5 separate regions of the Homo sapiens genome follow, and regions 1, 2, 4 and 5 are each reported to be linked to region 3. Evidence: microRNA targets listed by miRTarBase, many of them from high-throughput screens and not tested one by one. Region 3 holds a microRNA gene; each other region holds the end of a gene's coding sequence.
Evidence for each region. The annotated mature microRNA hsa-miR-346 reads UGUCUGCCCGCAUGCCUGCCUCU and lies in region 3 at 1,188-1,210, opposite strand. An mRNA with a match to its seed (bases 2 to 7 or 8) in the 3' UTR can be bound and repressed. Matches are read on the target gene's strand: a 7mer-m8 pairs with bases 2 to 8, a 7mer-A1 pairs with bases 2 to 7 and ends in A, and an 8mer does both.

Region 1 (6,163 bases), not on the chromosome of region 3:
TGTCCTGGGAGGACCCAGGGGGCCTGGTCCCAGCCTCCTTCACAGTCAGCCCAGTATCTCTTAGCACCCGGCGTCTCCAGCCTGTCCCATGAATACCCCTGAAGATGGGGACCAGCCACGTCCTGGGCCCCTGAGAGCAGCTGAGATCCAGTGAGGGCAGGCGGAGGCACTGTAGGCACAGGCTGGAGAGGGGTCACGGGGGCAGGGCAGGAAGCAGTGCCTGTTTCCAAGGCTCCTGGGTGAGCCAGCCCCAGCCTCGATCGCGGGCAGGTTCCAGCCTGACCACAGGACTAGCTGTCTCAGGGGCAGGGCTGCCTCCCCAGGCCATGAGCTCCACAGGCCCCTGCAGGCCCTGGGGGCGATCTCTAACCCCATGGTGGGGAGGCTAAATTAATCTCTGAAGCCCCTCCCTGGTCTGAGGAGCAGCACCTCAAAGGATGGGGTGGGGAGGAGTCTGCGCACTCACGCCGCCCAAGTCCTGCCTAAGTCAGCACCCTTGATGCTCAGTGCTGCGGGCACAAGCCTAAGCCTGGGAGCCAGGCCCTGTCTGGGACTCAAGGCCAAATGGCTGACTTGGAGGAAGGAGCATCCACTGAGGGCAGGAACATTTGGGAGAGGCTTCCTGGAGGAGGTGTGGGTGGGGAAGGATAGGGAGGCGTGGTGGGTTGATGGGCGGGTGTGGGCGTTGCTAAAGGCAAGAGGTCCTCACCCAGCACCGGACGCACGCATCCACCCAGCCCAGCTCAGGGGCTGGTGCCGGCACGGGTTTCACCTGCCGGCTGCCTACGCAAAGGCAGAGAAAGCATAGGAGGGGAGGAGGGCAGGGAGGCCTGGGTCTCCAGGGAGCTGAGGAGGGCTTCTGGGGGCCAGAAGGAAGCTACAAGCAGGTAGGGTTCAAGGAGCGGGGCAGCAGGGCTGGGGTGTTGTCCTCCCTCCCGAGGAAGCGTGGCTGTGGACAGCTTGGCTTTTGGCGTGCGTGCCACAAACATTCCGGCCCTCGCCTCCTCCTGGCTCTGTGCTTGGCACCCCTGCCCCAGATCTTCCCGGCTCTGTGCTTGGGCACCCCTGCCCCAGAAAGGCCTCCCATGGCTTCCGTATCCTCACACCTGTCCAGGTCTTCTCTTCCCACGAGTCTTCACATGAAGAGCCTCTGCAGCCCTTCCCACAGCTTGCAAGGACCAAGGGAGGCCAGCAGGTGGACAGGGGGCCTCAGCCTGCCCTGAAGTCCCGCCAGTCAGTGGTTACCCTCCAGGGCAGTGCCGTGGTGGCCAACCGGACCCAGGCCTTCCAGGAGCAGGAGCAGGGGCAGGGGCAGGGGCAGGGAGAGCCCTGCATTTCCTCTACGCCCAGGTTCCGGAAGGTGGTGAGACAGGCCAGCGTGCATGACAGTGGAGAGGAGGGCGAGGCCTGAGCCCTCACACATGCCCACGCTCCCCTGACACTGAAGAGGATCCACAACTCCTTGGAGAAACACCCTCACGTCTGTTGCCGCACACATTCCTCTCAGCTCCGCCCCATACCCGTCACTACAGCCTCACCTCCCACCCCTGTCACTACGGCCTCACCTCCCACCCCTGTCACTACAGCCTCACCTCCTACAGCCTTAAGTCCCAGGCCCATGTCTGCCTGTCCAAGGGCTCAAGACTTTCTAACTGGGATGTGGTAGAGGGACTGAAGGTACCTTTGGGGGCAACAGCACCCTAGTTTCATTCTCAACTCTAGCCCTGCACACTCACCTGTGGCACGGAATGAAAACAGAGCTTCCCGTGCAAAAAGGGTCACGCCTCCCACCCCCGCCCCCTCCCTGCACCTCCTGTCCTCTCCCAGTTCATTCCTGGAACCAGCCAGGCCAGGCAACCAGTGGCCCCCAAAGGCAGGCAGGATCCTCAGGCCCCAGCCGCGGGAGGCTGGAAGGGCTGGCAGATCGCTTCCCTCATCCACCTCCACCGGTCCAGGTCTTTGCTGCTGTCCCCAGACCTCCTGTGACACCACGCCAGATCACAGGGCACCAGGCCAGAGATAGTCTTCTTTTTGTCCTTTCTGGCCTCTGGCTAGTCAGTTTTTCATAGCCTTACAGTATCTGGCTTTGTACTGAGAAATAAAACACATTTTCATATTTGGTTATTTTCAATGTGACGATGAAGCCATCTGTGTTGCAGTCAGACCCTTCTCTGCTGGCTGGGGAAGGTGGCCGCCCCTTCCTCCCAGCAGTCTCCTCACAATTCCAAGGTGGCTCGTGACAGACCTATTTGGGGGAGTGCCGTGTTTGGGCGTGGCGTGGGAGGAAGATTGGGTAAGAGAAGAGAGGAAGTCAGTGCTATCTCCCCATCTCCTGGGGCAGGGCCTGGTAAATATGACCTGCTCACACCCACCCGCTCAGACAGGTCGGGCAAGGGAAGAAGTCGTCAGCGGGCAGCAGGCATGTGGCTCCACTGTGAGAGCTGGAAGGGGTTACTCATGAGGAAGTGCCTACCTGGACAGGACCAAGCCTGTTCCAAAAGCGAAGCCTCCTTGGGACACTCGGCGCCAGGTTCTCTGGCATGTTTTGGGTCCCAAGAATCACCTTCCTCCTGCTACAAAGCAAAGGGCCTGACTTTCCAAGCCAGGCTATTGCGGCCTGGGAAGAAGGACCCTTGGTGACACTTCCCCTCCTGCCCAGGGGTTCCTTCTGCTCAACTTTAGTGTCCAAGAAGAGTTAGTCATTCCATCTTTTTTTTTCTTTTTTTGAGACAGAGTCTGGTTCTGTTGCCCAGGCTGGAGTGCAGCGGCACGATCATGCCTCAGTGCAGCCTTGAATTCCCAGGCTGAAGAGACCCTCTCACTTCAGCCTCCTGAGTAGCTGGGACCACAGGCACACCTAGCTAAGTGGTTGTATCTTTGTCACTTCCTTTTTTTTTTTGAGACAGGGTCTTGCTCTGTCACCCAGAATAGAGTGCAGTGATATGATCTTGGCTTTCTACAGCCTCAACCTCCCGGGCTCAAGGGATCCTCCTGCCTCAGCCCCTGAGTAGTTGGGACTACCTACATGTGCCATCATGCCTAGCTAATTTTTATCTTTTATTTTTTGTGGAGACGGGGTTTTACCATGTTGCCCAGGCTGGTCTCGAACTCCTGGGCTCAAGCGATCTGCATATCTCGACCTCTCAAAGTGTTGGGATTACAGGCGTGAGCCACTGCGCCTGGCCCATCTTTGTCACTTCTATCCCTCTTCCCAAGATTATGTATGCTCTCTGCTCTATGATACATTACCCTGGTTTGGGGAAGGGGCCGGATTCAACTCCTTCCCTCAAAGCAGTCCTTAGAGATGGGAGCTGGCACCAAGCATTCTCAGTGACTGAGACTTCACGCCCAGTTTTAAGAATGAATCTCTCACCCAGGCCCTGGTGGGACTCCTAGCACTGCTCTAACCCTGAAGTGCGCAGTGGCAGGAGACTTGGATTTAGCCCCAGCTTCACCACTTATGAATTACTTTGCTTTGAGTCTCTGTTTCTTTCTGTAAAATAAAGGGATTAGACCTGGAAATCCCCAAGTACCCCTCTTCACTTTGATGCATTTTATATTATTTATTATTTATTTATTATTGAGTACAGTGGGGTGATCTCAGCTCACTGCAACCTCTGCCTCCCAGGCTCAAGACATCCTGCCTCAGCCTCCTGAGTAGCTGGGACTACAGGGCCACCACGCCTGGCTACACTTTGATACATTTTAACAATACATGCTATCTAGACATTGCTAGATTAGCCTCTACCTCCCTTCCAGAAGAGGAATCCTTGGCACCTATCTGGGTGGTATGCCTAAGGGTCACAAGATGTGGGGTACATGCAAGCTAGTTCTGATTCTTGATCCATCCTGCTGAGCAAACACTGGGGGCTACCCCCCACTCTGTGGCCAACTAGGAGTCCTACCCAGGCTGCCCTTTCAGTATTCCTGGCCTAGGGCTGCAGATGGGTGGGGTGGTGGTGAGAGTGTCGGGGTAAGCCAAGGCCAGGCCCTGCCCCTCCTGCAGCCTGTGCATCTCAGAAGGCAGGTCCAATCAGGAACTCAGAGCTGTGGGGCTCACTAGAATCCACTAGAATCCAGGAGGATTCTAAGAAGTAAGAAGTCAGCAAACAGGGAAATGAAGACTGGAGGGGAAACCGCATCAAAAATACAGACAAGAGGGTGCCGGGTGTGGTGGCTCATGCCTGTAATCCCAGCACTTTGGGAGGCTGAGGCAGGCGGATTGCTTGAGCCCAGGAGTTCGAGACCAGCCTGAGCAACATGGTGAAACCCCATCTCTACAAAACAAAACAAAACTACAAACAATTAGGAACCCTATTGGCTGGGTGCAGTGGCTCACGCCTGTAGTTCCAATACTTTGGGAGGCTAAGGTGGTTGGATCACCTGAGGTCAGGAGTTCGAGACCAGCCTGGCCAATGTGGCAAAACACTGTCTCTACTAAAAATACAAAAATTAGCTGGGTGTGGTGGCGTGCACTTGTAATCCCAGCTATTTGGGAGCCTGAGGCAGGAGAATTGCTCGAACCTGGGAGGCTGAGGTCGCAATGAGCCAAGATTGCGCCATTGCACTCCAGCTTGGGTGACAGAGTGAGACTCCGTCTCCAAAAAAAAATAAAAATAAAAAAAACCCTATGTATACACAAAGCTCACCCAAATTGCTAAAGGGGCAAAAAATAATAAGAAGGATATAAAATGAAAAGTAAATCTCACTCCTACTCTGTCCTCTAGTCCTTCACATCTACTCAGGCAATGACTTGTTACCAGCTGCCTTTGATGCCCTCCAGGTACCCCATGCTTATGTAATCAAATATATTGGTATGTGTATTTTTTAAAAATACAGACAATAGCATGTTAACATACTATTCTACACTTTGAAAATTGGTTCATATCAGAGTTCCACATCGGTACCGTGGTGTTATATATACATTGGTTTTCATCCAGGCTCCTGGCTCATAACCCTCATAGCCCTTGTTCAGTCTTTTGTTCTAATGTTGAGTGTGTCAGGCCTCAGGAGCAGGCCGCAGGAAACAACCTCTTGACATTCTGCCCTCCTCTCCCTTGCCCCAAGGCAGGGCTCTACTGTTCACCCTCACTTTCAGATTGTGGGTTATAAGACCCTCCCCAGAGAGACCCTCCTCCTCACTCTATACCCTGGTGTAAGGAATGCTGATGTCATGAAGCTTCCATTAAAAACCCAAGAGGACTGGCTTCTTGGAGCTCTGGGTAGCTGACCATGTGCAGGTTCCTCCCCGGTGGTGCACCTAGGGAGGGTGTGCACACTCCGCACCCTCCCCCGTGCACATCTTTTCACCTTTATCCTTTGTAGTATCCTTTATAATAAGCCACTAAACGTAAGTGTTTCTTTGAGTTCTGTGAGCTGCTCCAGCAAATTAATCAAACCGAAAGAGGGGATCGTGGGAACCCCAACTTGAAGCTGGTCAGGCAGAAGTTCTGGAGGCCTGGACTTTTGACTGGGATCTGAGGGGAGGGAGATGCAGTCTTGGGGGCTGAGCCTCAACCTGTGCGATCCGACACTATCTCCCGGTAGACAGAGTTGGAATTGAATTGGAGGCCACCCAGCTGGTCTGTTGCTTGGTGTGTGGGGAGAAAAACCCCACACCTTTTTTTTTTTTTTTTGAGATGGATTCTCACTCTTGTCCACCCAGGCTAGAGTGCAATGGCGCAATCTTGGCTCACTGCAACCACCACCTTCCAGGTTGAAGCGATTCTCCTGCCGCAGCCTCCCGAGTAGCTAGGATTACAGGTGCCCACCACCATGCCTGGCTAATTTTTTTTGGTATTTTTAGTAGAGATGGGGGTTTCACCATGCTGGCGAGGCTGGTCTCGAACTCCTGACCTCAGGTGATCCACCCGTTTCGGCCTCCCAAAACGCTAGGATTACAGGCGTGAGCCATTGCGCCTGGCCAACCCAATATCTTTGGTCACCAAAGTCTTACGTGTTGATAATTGTGATGGTGTGAGAGCAGAGGAAAAACGCCATTTGAGTTTTCCCCCCAAATAGTACATAAAAGATTTGCCTCATTTAAAAAATAACCACACATGTTCTATTTTATGGAATCCATCAGTTAAGTGGTCATTTATTGATGAACATTTAGGTTGTCTGAGGGCTCCCCCCCGCCCCCATTCCAGGTAATGCTTTATAA
Region 2 (6,029 bases), not on the chromosome of region 3:
AACTGAAGCTTTGCAGGGATGGTTGTAAAGGTATACTAGATTCTGTCTGGGGGAAGGGATAGAGAGTGTTTTTATTTTTCAACCTACATTCCTATGGAAAGAAAAATTATAAAGTTATATGCCAAAATGTCAAAAATGCTTATCTGAAGATGGAAGGGTGGATGGTTTACATTTTCTTCTTTCTGTTTCTTTGTATTTCCTAAAATTTCTTAACAGATATGTTTTATTTTTATGGAAAGAAAAAACAATAAAAGCTAATATAAATATTTAATTGGCTTTTTTGTCTCTTTTAAAACATACTTTTATTGAAGTATAATTTGTATACCACAAATTCACCCATCTTATGTAGACAATAATTTTTAGTAAATTCACCAAGTTGTACAACCATCACCATATGTAGTGGGTGTTTTTTTTTTTTTTTTTTTGACAGGGTCTTACTCTGTTGCCCAGGTTGGAGTACAGTGGTACTATCTTGGCTCACTGCAGCCTTGACATCCTGGGCTCAAGTGATCCCACTTCAGCCTCCTGAGTAGCTGGGACTACAAGGTGTGCACCACCATGCTCAGCTAATTTTTTACTTTTTTGTAGAGACAGGGTTTTGCTATATTATCCAGGGTGGTCTCGAACCCCTGGACTCAAGCGATCCTCCTGCCTCAGCCTCCCAAAGTGCTGGGATTACAGACGTGAGCCACCATGCCCAGCCCACCATATCTAGGTTGAAAATGTTTTTTTCATCATTCCAATAAGATCATATCTTTTTATGAAGCTTCTTCATATCCGTTAACCCTAGGCAAACATGAATCTATTTTCCTGTCTCCATAGATTTGCCTTTTCTGGACATTTCATATATGTAGAATCATATAATATATAACCTTTCACGCGTGGCTTTTTTCACTTAGCATAATGTTTTGAAGTTATGCTATATCATTCGTGATATAGCTCATATAAGTATTTTACTGCTTTCTGTTAGGATTTGTCTTCCATTAAGGATCTCCTACATTTTGTTTATCCCTTCACCAGTTTTTAGACATTTAGCCTGTTTCCACTTTTTGGCTATTATGAATAATGCTGCTATAACATTAATGTACAAGTGTTTGTGTGCACATATGTTTTATTTCTCTTGAGTAGATACGTAGGAATGGAATTGCTGAGTTGTATAAAAAAATTATACTTAACCTTTTGAGCAACTGAAAAATGGTTTTCCGGCCAGACCCGGTGGCTCACACTTGTAATAGTAGCACTTTGGGAGGCCTAGGCGGGTGGATCACCTGAGGTCAGGAGTTTGAGATCAGCCTGGCCAACATGGCGAAACCCCATCTCTACTAAAAATACAAAAAAAATTAGCTGAGCGTGCTGGTGGCTGCCTATAATTCCAGCTGCTCAGGAGGCTGAGGCAGGAGAATCGCTTGAACCTGGGGGGTGGAGGTTGCAGTGAGCTGATATCAAGCCAGTTCACTACAGCCTAGGCGAGAGGGCGAAACTCTGTCTCAAAAATAAATAAATAAATAAAAAATAAAAAATGGTTTTCCAAAATGGCTATATGCTAACTCACATTCCCGCAGGTAAGGAACGAGAATTCTTGTTTCACTACTTCCTTGCTAGCACTTGCTACTGTTTGTCTTTTTGATTATAGCCTTCCTGGTGGATGTGAAATGGTATCTCATTATGTTTTAAATTTGCATTTCCTTAATGACTGACGATGTGAAGCATCTTTTCATTTGCCATTTGTATATCTTCTTTGAAAAATGTCTATTGAAATCTTTTGCGCATTTTAAAATTGAGTCTTTTTTTATTTGGTTTGTTTTTAAGAGTTCTTTGTATATTCTGGGTACAAGTTTTTTTGCAATGTATGTGATTTCCAAATACTTTCTCCCTGTCTGTGGCTTTTCTCTTCCTTCCTTCCTTCTTTCTCTTTCTTTCTTTCTCTCTTCTTTCTTTCTCTCTCTCCTTCCTTCCTCCCTCTCTCTCTTTCTCTTTTTCTTTCTTTCTTTTCTTTCCTTCTTTTTTTTTTTTTTTTTTTGACAGAGTCTCACTCTGTTGCCCAGGCTGGAGTGCACTGGCACAATCTTGGCTCACTGCAACTTCTACCTCCCAGGTTCGAGTGATTCTCCCGCCTCAGCCTCCTGAGTAGCTGGGATTACAGGCGCCCACCACCATGCCTGGCTAGTTTTTGTATTTTTGGTAGAGACAGGGTTTTGTCATGTTGGCCAGACTCATCTCCAACTCCTGAGCTCAAATGATCCGCCCTCCTTGGCCTCCCAAAGTGCTGGGATTACAGGCATGAGCCACCTTGCCTGGCCGCTTTTCATTACCTTAATGGTGTCTTTTGAGGGCAAAAGTTATTTCTTTCTTAAAATACTTTTTATTTTCCACTCTGTGCAACATAGCAAGACTCCCTTCTCTACAATTAAAAAAAAATTAGCCAGGTATGGTGGCATGTGCCTTTAGTCCCAGCTACTTGGGAGGCTGAGGCAGGAGGATCACTTGAATTATAGCTGCAGTGAGCTATAATCACACCACTGCACTCCAGCTTGTGTGACAGAGTGAGGCACTCTCTCTAAAGAAAGAAAAGAATAGCTTTTTATTTGGAAATAATTAAGGGTTCACAGGAAGTTGCAAGAGTGGTAGAGAGATGTCCCATGTATCCTTCACCCAGTTCCCCCTCAACCCCAAAATAATGCATTTTGGTTAAGTCAAATTTGTTAATTATTTTTCTTTTATGGATCATGCTTCTCGGGTCACGTCTAAAAAACCTTTGCTGAACCCAAGATTTTACCATTTTCTTGTATGCTTTATTCTAAAAGTTTTATAGCTTCCACTCTTACATTAATGTCTCTGGTTCATTTTGAATGAAGTTTTGTATAAGGTATAAGGTAAGGGTCTAAGTTAATCTTTTTTTTGCATGTGGATATCCAATTGTCCCATTATCATTTGTTGAAAAGATACTATTTTCTCTATCTATGACACAGAGTTTTGCTCTGTTGCCCAGGCTGGAGAGCAGTGGCACACTCTTGGCTCACTGCAAACTCCACCTCCCAGGTTTAAGAGATTCTCCTGCCCCAGCCTCCTGAGTAGCTGGGATTATAGGCACATGCCACTACACCTGGCTAATGTTTGTATTTTTAGTAGAGACAGGGTTTCACCATGTTGGCCTGGCTGGTCTTGAACTCCTGACCTCAAGTGATCCACCCACCTCAGCCTCCCAAAGTGCTGGGATTACAGGCATGAGCCACTGTGCCTGGCCTTATTTTCTCTATCAAACTGACTTGGCACCTTTGTCAAAAATCAATTAACCATAAATATTAGAGTTTATTTCTGGACTCTGAAATCTGTTCCTTTGATCTATATATCTTGTATTAGTACTAAATGGTCTTGATAACTTTAGGTTTATAGTAAGTTTTAAAATTAGGAAGTAAAAGTTTTCCAACTTTGTTTTTAAAAAATTATTTGCTCTTCTGGGTCTTTTCATTTCCATATACATTTTGGGTACAGCTTGTCAATTTCTGCAAAAACCCTGCTGGAATTTTGATGAAGACTAAATTGAATGCATGCATCAATTTGGGGACAATTGTTATCTTAACAATATTGAATGAGTTTTCCAATCAGTGATCATAGAATGTCTCTCCAATTATTTAGATCATCTTTAATTTCCCTCAGAATGCTTTGAAATTTTCGATGTACAAGTTTTATAATTATTTTGCTAAATTTATTTGTATTTTATTTTTTTAATACCATCGTGAATGGAATTTTCTTGTTTTCAGATCATTCATTGTTCATATACAGAAATACCAATATACCATTTTTTTTTTGGAGACGGGGTCTCACTTTGTTGCCTAGGCTCGAGTGCAGTGGCTATTCACAGGCAAGATCACATTGCACTATAGCCTCAAACTCCTCACCTCAAGTGATCCTCCTACCTCAGCCTCCCAAGTAGCTGGGACGAAAGGTACATGCCATCTCCACTGAGCCCAGCCTTCAATGTATTTTTGCATATTGATATTGCAACCTGCAACCTTGCTGAACTTATTAGTTCTAACATGTGTGTGTATTCCTGACGGTTTTCTGCATAAAGAACCATGTTGTCTGCAAATAAAGACTTCCTTTCTAATCTGGGTGCCTTTTATTTTTATTTATTGTATGGTTGCTCTGGCTAGAACCTCCAGTACAATGTTGAATAGAAGTTGCAAGAGCTGACATGCTTGCATTATTCTTGATCTTAGGGTAAAATAATTCAGTTTTTCATCGTTAAGTATGATATTAGCTGTAGGTTTTTCATAGATGCCTTTATGATGTTCTCTTTCAAGTTTGAGAATTTTTATTATGAATTGGATTTTGTCAAATGCTTTTTCTGCATCTATTGAGATGATAGTGTAACCAAGGAATTGTGAAAAAAGAAAAAAAGATGAGAATACTGTTTTGATACTTTATTAATATAGTATGTTATGTTAATTGATTTTAGGATATTAAACCATCTTTGCATTCCTAGGATGAATGTCAGTTGGCCAGAGTATATAATCCCTTTTATATATTGCTGGATTCAGGATCAAACTGAATTTTAAAAATATACTGACTTTGGAGGAAATTCAGAAATTTGTCAAGTGAAGTGGCCTCCTTATAAAAATATTGATGGTTTAACGATATTCTTAAAAATTAGAAAGTTCAAATATCAATATCTTTTGTCATTAGGACTAATAACCCAAAAGATTTAAAAATAATTATATTAAGTATAATTAATATGCCAATTAACAATGTAGAATGTTTTCAAACTATGAATTTTTTAAACATTATTTTATTTTATTTTATTTTATTCACTTAAATAAGGGAAAGTCTGTTTGTTTGCTTTTGTGAAAGTTCATTCATTTCTTAATGATGTTTTTCAAGACTAGTATTTATTTTATTTCACCATTACAATTATAGACTAATAATCTCATAATCTTTCTAAACATAAAAATTCAGACAGTTCACATTATGAATTTTTTATTTGTTTATTTATTTATTTTATTTTTTGAGATGGAGTTTTGCTGTTGTTGCCCAGGCTAGAGCGCAATGGTGCAATCTCGGCTCACCACAACCTCTACCTCCGGAGTGCAAGTGATTCTCCTGCCTCAGCCTCTTGAGTAGCTGGGATTGAGGGCATGCGTCACTACACTCAGCTAATTTTTTGTATTTTTAGTAGAGATGAGGTTTCACCATGTTGGTCAGGCTGGTCTTGAACACCTGACCTCTGGTGATCTGCCCGCCTCAGCCTCCCAAAGGGCTGGGATTACAGGCGTGAGCCACTGCGCCCGGCATGAAATTTTAATAGCTAGTCTTCGTTTTGAACAGTGAACATTATAGATCTATCCCCCAATTCATCCTCTTTTTTCAAAATGAGTTTAAAAAGGTCTCTCTCTTTTTCACAAGCTAGAAAGTATCCTTCGTATGATGAAGATTCAAATTGCATCTTATTATCATGTCCTGGGACACTTCTCTGAAAGAATATGATGTCACTTTTTGTATCCTTGATGTTATCAGGAGGATTCATTTCCTATAGAGAAAAAAACATTACCTAATTATTTCAGGACATGAACAATTTGAATATATGAAGTTTGTTTTGAAGTATATTACCAAACAGAACAAAAGTAGTTTTGCTTCTCAAGAGTTACATAAAAAAAATCTCTGAACAGCAGTACTGACCTCCTCTCCTTCTTAACTCCGAATCTCCTATTCTCCCTGTCATGGGATGCATATTCAGTTCCAGGCCTCTAGTTTTCCCCTATACATCAAACAGCTTACTTCTCTCCTCTCCCATTGAGTGGTGTCCACATTTGCTCAAGATTAAGTAGAGTTCCAGCAAAGACCACAAGCTTTTTGGGCTAATGTCAATTTCTGTCCTCTATAATAACCATTCACGGCTAAAGACGATGATGACCTCCTCCCACAAACTTAGGCTAGTTCTAGTTTCTTTTTCTTTTTGCTTTGAGACAGGGTCTCGCTCTGTTGCCCAGCCAGAAGTGCAGTGGTGAAATCATAGCTCACTGCAGCCTTGA
Region 3 (4,000 bases):
CGTCCTAGACCCCACTGCCTGGGCTGGAATCCTGCTGTGCCACTCACTAGTTGTGGGACCTTGAGATGTCACCTCACCTCTGATGCCTGTTTCCCCACCTCCCTCCCCCTCGGGTTGTGAGAATTGAGTCACTATTTATAAAGTGCTTAGAACAGTGCCTGGTACATATCAAGTGCTCAATAAGAGTTGGTTTTAAAATATTAATTTTTAAAATCTAGGACAATTGTTTATGTTTGGAAGTAGGCTTTGGAGATGGGCTAGACCACTGGGTTTCCCCACCTCAACCCACTTCACTAAGTTAAGAAAAGTGGGTTTCATGGAATATTTCATTTGAACAAAGAGTGCCACTGCTTGAAAATATTTGGCTCACATTTTGCAGAGGAGCAAACAGAAAGCCAGAGAGGGGAAGGGACTTGTCCAGGAGCCTCTGCAAGTTCACAGCAGAGCTGGGAGCCGAATCCAGGCTGCCCACCTGCCGGGTCAGGTGTTTTATTGGCAGCATGAGCTCCTGGGATGTTCATTCACCTCATTTTCATTGCCAGTCACGCTGACCCACAGAAGGTACTGCTGGGCACCCTCCTCTCCCATCCCAGCAGCTGCAGTACCACCCCACGCTGGAGCTAAGAGCCCAGCCCCACCAACAGGTGAGACCCATGACCCTCAGACTTCAACACGCCCCACTCTGGAGCCTGGCCAGGCCTTTTCATTTGTCCTTCATTTGTTCTTTCCTATCATCCTCTGGTTCTCTACAACATTTCCTTGGCCCGGAAACTTGCTGGAACTTCCTGCCTGTCCTCCCTACATCTGTCTGCCCCTTGTACCCTGTACCCCTGCCCCATAGGCTGGAGACTACCCCAGAGGGAGGAATCCCACCACCACTCAGTCCCTTGGATGTGGGCCCCCCTTGGAAGCAGTTTTGCCCAGCTCAGATCCAGCCTGAGCTCACCACACTCTCTAGGAGCCCATTCCTGAACACCTCCCAGAGGCTGGCCACTCCACCTGGAGAGCAAGGTTTCCACAATCTTCTCTGGCTCAGGAGGGCCTGGCCTGATGCCCCACGCTGACTGTGGAGGTAGGTTGGGAGCGAAGTGGTGAGTCTGTAACCAGAGAGAAGAGCCATGTCCCATGCAGGAGCCGCTCTGCCCAGGCAGCTGCAGGCCCAGCCCCTGCCTCCTTCAGAGCAACAGAGAGGCAGGCATGCGGGCAGACAGACGCCCAACACAGAGACCTCCCACACGCTCGTCTGTGTCACCGCCGCCCCTTCCTGGTTGGCCCTGCAGACGAGGAAGCCCTCCAACCTGCAGCCAAATTCACTCCTTGCTGACAAGAGGCTCCTAGAGGAGAAGGGCTACTCCCCGGCCCCCAGGAAACTCTCTGAACATAGCTATCTGCCATCAAGGCCTGGATCAGCCAAGCAGGAGCTGCACTTGCCCAGCCTTTTCCTTCCTAGCCACACTTAAGCAAGACAAGTGGCATGGGCACGGAGAGGCTCCCCTGGCCACACACTGGGCAGGGACAGACCTGGGCTACTCATCCTTTCTGAGCAGCTAGCCTGGCCCAGGCCTGCAGACTGAGTGGCCCACCCTGCCCGGCCCCCCATAGGCATGAGCTCCCATACCCCCACCTCAGGCATGGTTCCATTATAACAAATTATCCTCGTTCACCTCCCACTCCACTTCTCTGACGGCTCCCTCTCTTGACTCTTGTCCTGCCTTTGTCCCATCCTTGCCCCCGACCGATGGCTGCTATTGCAAAAGTGATCCGAGTTCTGAATTTCAGCAGCATTTGATCATTTCAACTGGACCCAGCCCTGATAACCTGTGCCAGGCACTGTGCCAAGTGCTTTAAAATCTAGGACTTAATTAGGTATGACCCTTCTATTTTACAGATGAGGACACTGAGGCTTGCCCACAGGCATAGAGCTATTAAGTGGCCCAGCGTGGATTTGAATCCAGATGTGTCTGAATCCAGAGCCCCAGGTCTTACCACCAGCCCTGCCACGTGGCTGGCACACCCACAGATGTGTTCTCACCCCATGAGTAAAATCAGACACTCATTCTTGCTCTTGCAGCCATAGAGGTTGGAGGGAAGAGGGCTGAGCCCCTCAGGGGATGGTTTCTGCAAGTTCTGTTCAGGGATCTGTCTTCCTTCAGTGCCACTAACACTCACCTGTCATTGCAGGCAAGAGGAAATCAACATTTTACAGCAATAAAAGGCTGCTCCTGGTTAGGCATCAAACGAATCAATCTTCTCTGACAGTTAATTTTCATTTTGCAACTTTCCCCAGCAACAACAGCAAGTAATGACCCTGAGGATCTGCAAAGTCGCTGATCAGCAGCCCAGCCTCCCATACTCCTGACTCATCCACTGCCCTGGCTCAGCCCCTTGCCACCCATGCCCACCATTCACCTCCCCCTTCAGCCCTCTGAGATCCAGGGGTCTCTCTGCCCAGTGACCCCTCTCAGAGGCTCAGGTCTAAACTTCCCCGTGGAGCGCTGAGACAAGAAACAGACACACCAGAGCTCACAGTTGAAGCCACCCTGCTGGGGTAGTCACTGAGGACCCCCTGGCCAACAGCACCATTCCATCCTCGCTGCTCCCACCTCCCACCTCATCAGTGATCCTCCCCCTCCTGATAACCCATCATCACTGCCTCCCTAACACACCTATGACCCCAGCTATGACTCCAGGACCTGCCACCAACCCCCAATGCACAGCACCAGTGACGCCATCAGAAAGCTCCTCCAGCAAATCCCTCTAATTCCTGCAAACCTCCTCCCAGAGCATTCACACACGGCATCCCTGCCTACCCCCAAATTCCATCAATAACCCCAAAACTACCACATCTGACCCCCAAATACACCATGCCTTCCCAGCACTTCTACACAGCTGAGGAGCCCCCAGGCTCTGCACCTGTCCCCAGCCCTGCCCTAATCTGGTTCGAGGCTTCCTGATCTTTTACACACCACAGTCAGATGAGAGGATTCTTTCCCAGGGGAGGGCCCTCCTGCCCAACTCCCATGATCCCAGGTCAGTGATGAGTGTCAGCCCAGCTCAGAGCCGCCAGGCCCAATTCTCCAGAACCTACTCTGTGGCCTGGCAAGAGAGATAAGAAAAGGCCCACTGGGCCCCTGGACTGTGGCTCCATGGTGGCCTCTACACCAATTGCAGCAGCTTTCACAGGCTTAGGAAACCCTCTTGGTCCCCTGAACCCTGGGATTCACAGGCAGCATGGAGCTTAAGTCCCCAGAGTTTTCTCATGAGGCCTACTACTTCCTGCCGGGCTATAGGATTGGGTAGTGGGACTCCCCCTACCCCTCCACTTCCCCAAAATGCCCAAGACCAGGCAAACACCAAGCCAAGGAGGACTCTTCCCCTATCCCCACAGAGCCTCTGTCCCCAAGAACAAGAGTAAATACCATTTAGTGAGGCTCTCTGTGTGCCTAGCATGGTGCCAGCCAGGCTGACCACTCAGCACAGGGCCACGTCAGCATCACGTCACGGCATGGATTCCCACCCCGGGAAAGTGCTTGGCACACAGCAGACAGCCACAAACATGTATTAAATAAATGAATAGATGGAATGCCTTCCAACTGTTACCTCATGAAATATCTCAGCCCCTGCAAGCTGGATATTATCATCCCAACTTCAATTTGAGGAAACAGGCTTCAAAAGGGCAGCTTGCAGCTGAAAGTCATGTAGCCATCAATGGGCAGAGCCACATTCAAACCCAAATCTGTGCAAACTCAGAGGCTCTGCTGTCTCTGATCCACATACGGTCCCATTCAACAAGGACAACAGCGGTGATGGCAGCTCAACCCAGCCCCGCCCTGGGGCTGCTGAGTGCCCATCTCTTCCTGACACCAAACTGCAGCTCCAGGAAGTACAGGCGGCAGCCCCTACATCTCCCTGGCAACCCAGGAGCTTTTGTTCAGGAAGAATGAAGCTGATTCATCCCCCCAGGGTGAACAGCAGGGTCTAGACCTGTGAATGCAGCCTA
Region 4 (5,666 bases), not on the chromosome of region 3:
GAATCACAAAGGGAACTTGGAAAGAAAAAGACGGTTGGGGGCAGGGGTCCCTTTTTGTTGCTTAGAGAAAAAAAAACTTTACCTAAAAATAATATCTGATATGTTACTGATAGTTCACATTTGGCAGCTGACCAAGTATATAGCAATGTTCTCTAGCCTTACATTAAATTCTTACAACAATACTATGGAATAGATACTATTATAAATCCTCATTTTACAAAGAGGAAAACTGTGGCACAGAGATACTTTACCCAAAATCATAGGGCCAGAAAATGGCAGAGCTGGGATATTCCAGAGCAAGAAAATGGCAAAATATAAGTGAAGTAACCTTTCAATGAATTTGGTTTTAACTCCACAATGCTGTTTGAACTAAATGCCTTTAAGTTAACTACAGAATAAAAGGGTGAAAGGATAAATCATTTCAGCAAGGTACCCTAAAACCTACCAAAGAAGAAAAAAAATATGACTTGAGATTCTATAACCTTGTCTACTTAAGCTAGAGATTCTTGAATCCTGTCATGATGAATGGAAAATTGAATGCATTTTCCTAAGGGGTTCATCATAGCTTACAGTTTTTTTTCCTTTCTTTTCTTTTCTTTTTTTTTTTTGAGACAGAGTCTGGCTCTGTCACCCAGGCTGGAGTGCAGTGGCATGATCTCACTGTAACCTCCGCCAGGTTCAAGCCATTCTCGTGCCTCAGCTTCCTGAGTAGCTGGGATTACAGGCGGGTGCCACCCCGCCCAGCTAATTTTTTCTATTTTTAGTAGAGACAGGGCTTCGCCGTGTTGCCCAGACTGGTCTCGAACTCCTGACCTCAAGTGATCCACCCGCCTCCCAAAGTGCTGGGATTACAGGCATGAGCCACCGCGCCGGGCAGCTTACAGATTCTTGCAATAGTACTTAACCACACGCCCTCCTAGCCCCAAAGTAACGAATCACAGATATTTTTAAAAAAGAATCAAAGCACTCTGGTCCAAGGCAGACCAGAGTTAAGTAAGCATCTGGTAGGTGTCATAGTCCAGCAATACTGTAAGTTTATGGGAAAGGGCCTATGGAAACCAATGACTGTATATAGTTCAAGTTAAGTGGTTCAAAAATTTCGTTCATTATTCTCTGCCATGTACACAAGCCTCAGACCCTCTAATTCCAAGGAAAATTATCCTTGGCCTCTGAATTCTGTGAATTGTGTACATTAAGGGAGATCTGTCCTTGGCAAGCAGAACACGTTGTTGGCAAGCTGCAAATACCTTCCACCCTTTTGCCAAAGTCCCCTCACAGGGCAGGCTCAATTCCTCAACCTTCAGACCCAAAACGGCTTGGTATTACACAACAATCCAACAAGAAAGCAAATAAGTATGTACGTTGGAAGAGATTACACCACTTTTATAGTTACTGGGCTGGAGCCACTCATTTTTCAGCGGAGAGGGTTAGAACTGGGTAATGAAGGTAAATCCCGAGGAGTCCAGGAATAGCAGATTCACTGATTCACTGACTCTCTGGGACTCGGGCTGCCAAAAATAAAATCCCAGTACTGGGGGCTCCGATCAGTCTTGGTGACCAGCACTAGGCAGCTTCAACCTCGGGTGCCTGAAAGTGCTGGGTGTCCAGTGGCATAAGTCTTCTTTGATACCCAGTCCTCTACACCAACAAAGCCGAGGTCCGGAATGACAGTCCCCAGAGAAGCGGAGTCACCCTTCTCCCATCCGGCTAGGCCACAGGAACCTGAGAAAATCAAGGGTTGCTGCCAGGTGCCCGCCCCCCACCCCGAATCCCCGACGTTGTCGCGAGTCCCGCGGTACAAGGACAGAGGGAAAGTAGGTACAGTGTTCAGGTCCCAGCCCCAGGCTCCTCACCCAACAAAGTTCAGTCATCTGGTGCACCAGCTGCTGGAAGCGCTGCTTTTGAGTCTCTACCTCGATGAAATGCTGCAACTGCGGGTCCACTGCACCCAAACCCGCCGCGGAGGAAGAGGAGGAGGAATCCATCCCAGGGCGACCAAGCTTGCAGAGACGAACTCCGCACCGACCTTCACGTGTCTCCGCGACGGAACCGGAACCACAGCTAGCTGCCTCTGGGACCGCCCCCGTGAGTGCACTGCGTCGGCGCGAGGCAGGCGTCCAACTCCACCCCGCCGCCTCCCACACCTTGGCGCCGGTGCTTCGTTCCCGGAGTCGGCGGGTTCCACTCCCCGGACCCCGCAATCCCGTAACCCCGCAACCCTGCCGTTGCGCCCAGCCTTGCGCCTTGAGATCGCAGGGCTTACAGCCCAGAGCCGAGGTGCCGTTGAGATGTTACTCCAAAAAGAAAAGAAAGGAGAAAAGGAAGTTACTTCAGACCACGTGATCCATTCCGTGCTGGCCCCACAGCTCCGCCCCTGTCCACTTCCAAATTAGCCCGCGTTTTCTGAGCTACCAGAGTTGTGCACTGGGTCAGTTAGTTGACTGGGTCGATTAGTTGGCTATCCTGGGCCCCTGGCTTTCGTTTTTTGATGGAGTTTTCCTCTCCCGACGTAGGGAAATGAGGCTATGGCAGTTTGTGCCCAACTTTCAGATTCATTCAAATAACATTGCATGCGTGCTGTGACAGGCACTGTTTTTGCTTAATGCATCTTTGATTCAGAGGCAGGAGTTAACAAGAGGGCTTAAACCTGGAGGATCCTGTCGAGTTCTCAGTGTAGGAATATGCCAAACTAATGCTACACAGCAGCTTTCTGGAATACTGAGATAGGGCGCTTCAGGGAGGCTGCATGATTAATAGAGATACCAAAGACTTTCAAGCTTTCTAGTAATTTTATTTTATCAAAACACCCTCCCCTCCCATCTTTATGACACCATTTCATTCTTGCCAAATTCGGTCCACCCCCACACACACACCCCCAAGCTCTACCAAATGCCTACTCAAAGAGCTGTTGGACCCCTTTGTGCGGCTATTTACATCCTCCCTCCTAAAAAATATTTTCATCGCAAATTCAGTCTGTCTTAATTCTCTCGGGAAATTTCAGGCACAATAATTTCTTGGCCTTTGCTCAGAAGCCACTATCCCAGGGAATCAAAGAAGAGGTGCATTCCCAGATGTAGAGAGGGGCCTTTTTGTATTGAGTGGGAGCACAAAGGCTCCAGGGCTCCTAAGCTTGGGATTTCCTCTGAGAAAGTGAAATTGGGGCTTGTGGAGAAGAGAAGTAGAACCAAGAAGCTTATTGGCGAGCTCAGGATTCTTCATCCATGACATCTAGAATATTGCTCAGAAGAATTTTGAAAGTGGGACGCTCATCTGCTTTCTAAAACCAAAGAAAAAGTAAAGTGTTAGAGTGGCTAGAATCCAGAATTCAAGGGAAATGCAATGAGTAAGCAGCAAATGTTTATTAAATATATGCTCTATGCCCAGTAGCATGCCCTGTCGATTACAAAAGGAAAAAAAAAAAAAAAAGAAATAGCAGCTCTCCATAAAGTCTTTGTGCACTTTTCATCTTTAGTAACTCAGGTTATTAGTGTGATAAGAACAATTTGCAAATTAAACTGACAATCACACTGATCAAAATTGAGGGCAAGTTCATTATGTAACTGTATACAACACATTCTTATTTTGGATCCTCAAGTGAAAAATGGCTACCAAACAAGTTCAAGTGGTTGGCAGAACAGAAATCCCATGTGATAATTTTTAGTGATTAATATTTCAAAACCACAGGCTGTATTACTGAGCAGGGATTCTGAGTACCTGGGACCTTTTTTTTTTTTTTTTTTTTTTTACCACTGGTAACAAAAAGACTAAGGTTTTTTTTTTTTTTTCTTTTTGAGACAGAGTCTCACCCTGTTGTCCAGGCTGGAGTGCAGTGGTGTGAGCTCAGCTCACTGCCACCTCCCAGGTTCAAGCGATTTTCCTGCCTCAGCCTCCCAGGTAGCTGGGATTACAGGTGCACGCCATCACGCCCAGCTAATTTTCGTATTTTTAGTATAGACCGGGTTTCACCATGTTGGTCAGACTAGTCTCGAATTCCTGACCTAAGGTAATTCCCCCGCCTCAGCCTCCCAAAGTGCTGGGATTACAGGCGTGAGCCACCGCGCCCGGCCTACGACTAAGGTTCTTTTTGATGGCCATGGCCCATAAGCCCCCGAGGTATTTGGTATTTAGTGGTTCAGGGAACATTCATGCCAGAATGCTCTCAATCTGTTAGAACCAATGGTCATCAATTTCTTGATTCCTTGACTCAGTGATTCTTAAACTTAGCTGAGTATCAGAATTTCCTGGGAAGTTTAAAAAGAGATTTCTGGGTTCCACTTCAGGCATAGCTAATCAGAATTTCTGGAGAAAAGTCCCAGTTACCTGAATTTTTTTTTGTGACACAGTCTCGCTCTGTCACTCAGGCCAGAGTGCAGTGGCAGGATCTCGGCTCACTGCAACCTCCACCTCCTGGGTTCAAGTCATTCTCCTGCCTCAGCCTCCTGAGTAGCTGAGATTACAGGCACACATCACCACGCCTGGTTAATTTTTGTATTTTTAGTAGAGACAGGGTTTCACCATGTTGGCCAGAATGGTCTAGATCTCCTGACCACGTGATCCGCTTGCCTTGGCCTCCCAAACTGCTGGGATTACAGGCATGAGCCACCATGCCCAGCCAGTAATCTGCATTTTTAAGAGCTCCTTAGGGTTTCTGATATGCATCCAATTTTGACCACTCCTTTAAACAGGCTGTGGATAAAGTACCTGTCTGAAATCATTTTTAATTAGCAGAGTAAGAAGGTCCTGATTGGGAGGGAGCATAGCCAATCACCCTTAATCCTGCATCACACAGAAGAAAGAAGGAGTCCTCCCTTTCTGCACTTTCTCTGTGATCTGTCATTTGTTCGAGGGAAACCAGCCATGCTCGGATCCAGATACCCACTTTTCACCTCACCAAGAAGGCTCCAGATTCACATATGCACTTGTTGGACACTCTGAAGAGTTGAGCATTTATTTCCTACTAGAAATTTAGGTTGCCAAGGATCTACTGAAAAGTAGAGAAGGCATCTTGGGAAGAACTCGAGGTAAGAGGAGCAAAGCAGTTTAATAGTAGTAGGACAGATTTCCTTATTTCCAAAATACCACACCTACCCACATACCCCACGATGCACCATATTAAAAAGCAAAACAAAACAAAGCAAACAAAAAACCCACTACCTGTTTTAGTTCCCTTTCAAGCAGTAGGTTTTAAAAAAAATCTCATTTAGCCGGGCGCTGTGGCTCATGCCTGTAATCCCAGCACTTTGGGAGGCAGAGGCGGGTGGATCACAAGGTCAGGAGATCGAGACCATCTTGGCTAACACGGTGAAACCCTGTCTCTACTAAAAATACAAAAAATTAGCCGGGCGTGGTGGCGGGCCCCTGTAGTCCCAGCTACTCGAGAGGCTGAGGCAGGAGAATGCTGTGAACCCAGGAGGCGGGGCTTGCGGTGAGCCGAGATCACGCCACTGCACTCCAGCCTGGGCGACAGAGAAAGACTCGGTCTCAAAAAAAAAAAAAAAAAAATCTCATTTAGGACCTCAGCCAGAAACGGTTGGCAGCTAATAAAGTAGAAGAAAGGGCCAATGACACACAAAGGAATGAACAAACTTTCATGACTTTTCTTTTGTAATGCCCATTCACTTGTCTGAATGCCTCTGGCTGCCTGCTTATGCTAGATGACATGGCCC
Region 5 (6,163 bases), not on the chromosome of region 3:
ATACATTCTATTTTGGGGAGTTTTTTGTTTTTTTGAGATGGAGTCTCACTCTGTTGCCTGCGCTGAAGCGCAGTGGCATGATACCAGCTCACTGCAACCTCCACCTCCTGGGTTCAAGTGATTCTCCTGCCTAAGTCTCCGGAGTAGCTGAGATTACAGGTGCCCGCCACCACACCCAGCTTATTTTTTGTATTTTTAGTAGAGACAGGGTTTCACCATGTTGGCCAGGATGGTCTCGATCTCCTGACCTCGTGATCTACCCGCCTCGGCCTCCCAAAGTGCTGGGATTACAGGCGTGAGCCACCGTGCCTGGCCCAGGTGTTTTTTTTTTTTTTTAATTTTCTTATAGCCTAATGTTAAAACTACATAGAATAAAAGGATATTAAAACAAGAAAATAGTGAAAGGTTACAACAGGAAGATGAGAAACACCCTCTGAAAGGTGAGAGGGATGAGCACGGGAGAGAAATGTCTGCTGGTGGGGGCAGGTGCTGGCGTGCTGTCAGTGGAACTCTAGCATGTCTGGGGGACACTGGCATGTGTTGTGTGGGGGACACTGGCGTGTTGTGCAGGGGACACTGGCATGTCGTGTGGGGGACACTGGCGTGTTCTGTGGGGGCAATGGTGTGTTGTGTGGGGACACTGGCGTGTCGTGTGGGGGACACTGGTGTGTACACGGGACACTGGCGTGTCGTGCGGGGGGACACTGGCATTTTCTGTGGGGGCAATGGCATGTTGTGTGGGGGACACTGGCGTGTTGTGTGGGGGCAATGGCGTGTCGTGTGGGGACACTGGCGTGTCGTGCGGGGGACACTGGTGTGTACACGGGACACTGGCGTGTCGTGCGGGGGGACACTGGCATGTTCTGTGGGGGCAATGGCATGTTGTGTGGGGGACACTGGCGTGTTGTGTGGGGGACACTGGCATGTCGTGTGGGGGACACTGGCGTGTTCTGTGGGGGCAATGGCGTGTTGTGTGGGGACACTGACGTGTTGTGTGGGGGACACTGGCGTGTGCACGGGACACTGGCATGTCATGTGGGGGACACTGGTGTGTTGTGCGGGGGACACTGGCATGTTCTGTGGGGGCAATGGCGTGTTGTGTGGGGGACACTGGTGTGTTGTGTGAGGACACTGGTGTGTTGTGTGAGGGGCACTGATACGTGTGGTGAGTCGCTGTCCTACTGTGGGGGGAATCTGATGTGTGTGGGGAGCACTGATGTGTGTGGGGGTCACTGTCCTACTGTGGGGGTCGCTGTCCTATTGTGGGGGCTGCTGATGTGTGGGGGGGTTGCTGTCCTACTGTGGGGGGCACTGATATGTGTGGGGACCACTGTCCTACTGTGGGGGCTGCTGTGTGTGGGGGTCGCTGTCCTATTGTGGGGGCTGCTGTGTGTGGGGGTCGCTGTTCTATTGTGGGGGCTGCTGTGTGTGGGGGTCGCTGTTCTATTGTGGGGGCCGCTGATGTGTGTGGGGGTCGCTGTTCTATTGTGGGGGCCGCTGATGTGTGTGGGGGTCGCTGTCCTATTGTGGGGGCCGCTGATGTGTGTGGGGGTTGCTGTCCTGTTGTGAGGGCCGCTGATGTGTGGGGGTCGCTGTCCTGTTGTGGGGCGCTAATATGTGGGGGTCGCTGTCCTGTTGTGGGGCGCTGATGTGAGGAGTCGCTGTCCTGTTGTGGGGCGCTGATGTGTGTGGGGGTCGCTGATCTATTGTGGGGGCTGATGTGTGTGGGGGTTGCTGTCCTATTGTAGGGGCCGCTGATGTGTGGGGGTCACGTCCTGTTGTGGGGCACTGATGTGTGGGGGTCGCTGTCCTGTTGTGGGGGCTGATGCATGGATACATTGGCCGGGCTGGAGAAAGATGCACTGTCCCTGCGCCTTCCTTCCTCCGTTTTGTTCCTTTTAGTTCCCACAGGACTTTCTGTACTGTGGGAGAAAGCTCTTTTACAAGGGATCCCACAGGTGGCATTCCTGACAAGGCTGTTCAAATATCAGCCCACAAGTCATGGGTTCTGTTACACGTTCCCCCTCGGGACAAAACCTGCCGCCCAGCATTTACCTATAGTACGGAAGGCAGCAGCTGACCACCGAGGAGGAGCCAGAATCGCCTCTGCTGGACCCCATGGGCCCTCAAGGGGCACGGCCAGGAGTTTCGGTGAGAAAGTCATTTTCACACAATTACAGACCTATTTCCTCAAACATCACTGCCAGCCTCCACAGAGGAGGGCCTCCCTCCTTGAGGAACACCCTCCACAGAGGAGGGCCTATTCTATCCTTAGCTGGAAAGATGATCGAGGAATGCCTCCAATCGCCCTTAACTTCTTGCTGTCTGTCCCCTCGGGCCAAGTCAGCAGTTGGAGGTTTACCACCCAAACTCAGAACTAGACACCAACAGGGGTGCGAGTCTTTAGGAGCCTCAGGCCCACCCAAAGCACCAGCAAAGAGAAAACCAAGAAAGAAAGATGGCTAGGGGGAGTCCGGGGAGGGCGGTGGTGATTAGACAATAAGGAAGAAAATAGCGCCGTCGGTTAAACAGCACTGCACGCTGCCTCACCCTAGATGGGGACAGATGGGTTTGCTGCCCTAAGAATGACTTGACGAGAACAGCCTGCCACCAGCGTCTTTTGAGTCCAAAACAAAAGAGCAGCCGAAAGGAAGCGTATGGACTGTGAGCGGTGGTTTCACCCTGTGGCCAGACTGCCCAACAAGGGGCCACAGGTTTCTTGCAAGGGGTCCGTGACTTCACATAACTAGCATTGTCTACAGTCTCATACTATTCTTCGAATAAATGCAGATCTGCTGTGCTGATGGAGTATTACTCAGCTGTAAATAAATGCAGATCTGCTGTGCTGATGAACTATTAGTTGTACATGTTTCTGGGCAGCTGCTTTTTGTCACTGTGTATTTTTTAATTTTGCTTTATTATTTTTAGAGACAGGGTCTCACTCAGTTAGTTGTCGCCCAGGCTGCAGTACAGTAGCACGATCCTGGCTCACTGCAACCTCAAACTCCTGGGCTCAAGCCATCCTCTGGCCTCACCCTTCCGAGTGGCTGCAGCTACAGGCACGGACCACCCTGCCCAGCTCATTTTTTAAATTGTTTTGTAGGAACGGGATTGTGGGGCGGGGGGACGCATTACATCACCCAAGCTGTTCAGAACTCCTGGGCTCAAGAGATCCTCCACCTCAGCCTCCCCTGAAGTGATCACAGGTGTGAGCACCACGCCCACCCACTGCGCAGTTTTTCTAATCACTGGACAAGGAAAGCACAATGACCATGTAGGGTCTGCGAAGTTTTTAATGTTCAAGGGGCTGTCCGTTTTGAAAGGTGAAAAGGAATTAACATATTTAGGTCCACTCATAGGGAAGAGGAAAAAGAAATTCTGGCATAGCACAGGGGTCAGGAAACTATGGCCCACCACCTGTCGTTGTCAGTAGTTTCCCTGGAGCCCAGCCATGCAAATGGTTGACATGCTGCCGATGGCCGCTCTGCAGAATCGCTGGGACTAAGACCACAGGTCCAGAAAGCTTCAAATGGTTACTATCGGGCCCTCCACAGAAGTCTGCCCACTCTCCATACAGCATATGATGAAATACACTGCATTATACTGAATATTGAAAAAAAATATACTGCAGCTACTGAAAAATAAACACAAAGTGTATATACAAACAGGGAAAGATGTTCAAGAAATCATGAGAAAGTTTTATTTTAAACTCTGCCTGCCTCCTGAGGCCAGCAGGTCCCGTTCATTTGGTTTCACTAGGCTCCAATGAGAAAGGAATTTGAGTTCTTGGGAAGAATGAACCCTGGGAGGGTAAACAGGACTCTGGGCAACATTGTCTAAGCGGCGTCCCCAGCACGGGCCTGAACAGGACCAGCAGCCCCTCCGTTACTTACGCAGGCAGTTCCAAGGCCACAGGCCGCTGAGAGCTGTGCAGGAAGCTCTCCCCACCCAAGGTCTGCGTGGTATCAAAACTCAAGAATAAGAACAGAAGCCAAACCACCACCATGGTTCGCCATCAGCTGACCTACACTGAACCCCAGAATCAAGCAGACAGGCCCACCACGGCCCAGCTGTGCAGGATGAGCCAGCTCCCCAGGTGGAAAGGCCTGCCCAGGAAAGTCGCCAGAACAAAGCAGAAAGAGCCGCTGGCTGAGCTAGTCATTCTTCCCAAGTGAATAATTAGACAAGCGCCACCTTGAGAGGCCAGGAGCATGCTTAGAGGACATTCCCTCCTCCTGGAAGCTGTGTGTCCCCTAGGGGGCTCTTCAACACCCACCTCAGTGCAGCCACACAGGGAAGGGCTGGCGTCTGGGCCACCCTGGCGGGGATCCAGGACTACCTCACACTGCCCCACACCCACCGCCAATCTGCCCCTTAACCCAATGGTATCAGAGCATCTTAAAAGCACAACCACTAGACTCTGATAGCTGCTGTGTCAGATAAGAAGCAGGCCCCGTGGTGACAGACCACACACGGACGCAGCTGGCTCCTGGCTGCCTCACAGTCCGCCTCTCTCCTCACAGTTCAGCACTTTATTCGGAAGAGCATTAGACCTGCCATCCAGACAGCTTGTCCACCTTCACTCACAGCCTCACAATCCCAGAACCTGTGCTGCCCCCTGCAGAAATCCTGCATGTCCTGGGGGCAGCCACCACCCCAGCCCATGATGATGCTCTTCAAAATTAACTTTTGTTTCTGTAGGAAAAGCAAAAGGAAAAGGATTAAGTTCCTAATTGTTGAGTAGACACAACTCATCGACTCTAAACTATATAAATTTAGTCCATCAAACCTTAGTCTAAAATGTGTGACTAACACCCACCAGAGGAGGTGACCAAATGCGCTTCGGTGAAATCAGGTAAAAGCTGTTTGCAAACTGTGCAGGGTCTCGGCAGATGCCCTGAGAATCTTTAGCTCTTCCGTCCACAAGGATTCCACCAAAGTTAGTTGGTTTATCAGGGCCTCTTTTTCATCCTTCATATGAGACACCTGAAAGTTATTTTTTAATTATTGTTATTGTAGTAAAACATATATATATATTTCACAGAACGTACGTACCTTTTTAACCAATTTTAAGTGTATGGTTCAGCAGCATGAAGTACATTCACATTGTTTAGATCCACTGCCACTCTCCAGCTCCAGAACTTTTTCTATCACCCAAACAGAAACTCTACAAGCATACATCAATAACCCTATTCCCCTCTTCCCCAAACCCCCCGTCACCTCTACTCCACTCTCTGTCTCTACGAACTCACCTGTTCCAGGAACCTCACAGAAGTGGATCATACAGCATTTGTCCTTTTGTGTCTGGCTTATTTCATTTCCAATAATGTCTTCAAGCTTCATTAAAATCACTCTTTAAATCCCAGGCATGTTTTCATACGAATAAGCTGATTTCTCATTTAACTAAAACATTTACTAAATAAACACATCAATGAGAAAGAATGCTTGAAGTCACACAGTAACTTTTACTTTTTGCCTTTTAATAAAAAGTAAAGGCAAAGATATGGAATCAACCTAAGTATTCATCAACAGATGAATAAAGAAAAAGTGGCATATATACCCAGTGAAGTACATTCAGCCTTATAAAAAAGGAAATTTTGTCATTTGTGACAACGTGGATGAACCTGGAGGACATGCTGTCACACGGCAATAAGCCAGCACAGAATGACCAATATTGCATGATCTCACTATACATGGACTCTAAAATCATCAAACTCATAGAAGCAGGGAGTCAAATTGTGGTCACCAGAGGCTGAGGGGTTGGAGAGGGATTAGGGAGATGTTGATCAAAAGACACCAAATTTCAGCTGGACCAGAGGATTAAGTTCAAGAGATCTATGGTACATCGTGGTGACTACAGTTAATAACAATATATTATGTACTTGAAAATTGCTAAGTGCAGATTTTAAGTGTTCTCACCACAAAAAAAATAAGTATATGTGATCATGCATATGTTAAATAGCTTGATTTAGCCATCCACGATGTATACCTATTTTAAAACATCATGTAGTCCACTATAAATATATACAATTTTTACTGACCAATTAAAAATAAAGAGGCCAGGTGCAGTGGCTCATGCCTGTAATCCCAGCACTTTGGGAGGCTGAGGTGGGCGGATCACCTGAGGTCAGGAGTTTGAGACTAGCCTGCCCAACATGGTGAA

Region 1: the mRNA of SSH3 is a reported target of hsa-miR-346. The part of its 3' UTR that is shown has no 7-base or 8-base seed match.
Region 2: miRTarBase lists IL18 as a target of hsa-miR-346. The part of its 3' UTR that is shown has no 7-base or 8-base seed match.
Region 4: miRTarBase lists BTK as a target of hsa-miR-346. The part of its 3' UTR that is shown has no 7-base or 8-base seed match.
Region 5: miRTarBase lists SETD4 as a target of hsa-miR-346. Seed matches in the 3' UTR shown: 7mer-m8 at 3,557-3,563.

Annotation. Positions count from the first base shown.
Region 1 is chr11:67,310,477-67,316,639 of GRCh38, forward strand. SSH3 (slingshot protein phosphatase 3) reads left to right here. Exons shown (of 14, transcript NM_017857.4): 14 at 1,115-2,116. The coding sequence ends at 1,411. Among named protein-coding and RNA genes, the nearest start is that of SSH3, 10 kb to the left of the region's middle.
Region 2 is chr11:112,138,291-112,144,319 of GRCh38, forward strand. It overlaps IL18 (interleukin 18), which reads right to left. Exons shown (of 6, transcript NM_001562.4): 6 at 4,970-5,527. The coding sequence ends at 5,306. Among named protein-coding and RNA genes, the nearest start is that of IL18, 23 kb to the right of the region's middle. RefSeq lists an enhancer at 5,038-5,207.
Region 3 is chr10:86,263,560-86,267,559 of GRCh38, forward strand. MIR346 (microRNA 346) reads right to left here and starts at 1,229; the gene lies at 1,135-1,229. All of the region lies in intron 2 of GRID1 (glutamate ionotropic receptor delta type subunit 1), which reads right to left. RefSeq lists enhancers at 1-370, 748-1,248.
Region 4 is chrX:101,346,680-101,352,345 of GRCh38, forward strand. BTK (Bruton tyrosine kinase) reads right to left here. Exons shown (of 19, transcript NM_000061.3): 19 at 2,771-3,277. The coding sequence ends at 3,206. It overlaps TIMM8A (translocase of inner mitochondrial membrane 8A), which reads right to left and starts at 2,063. Exons shown (of 2, transcript NM_004085.4): 1 at 1,854-2,063. The coding sequence starts at 1,985. RefSeq lists an enhancer at 1,985-2,034.
Region 5 is chr21:36,031,266-36,037,428 of GRCh38, forward strand. It overlaps SETD4 (SET domain containing 4), which reads right to left. Exons shown (of 12, transcript NM_017438.5): 11 at 4,820-4,986; 12 at 3,276-4,695. The coding sequence ends at 4,852. Among named protein-coding and RNA genes, the nearest start is that of SETD4, 26 kb to the right of the region's middle.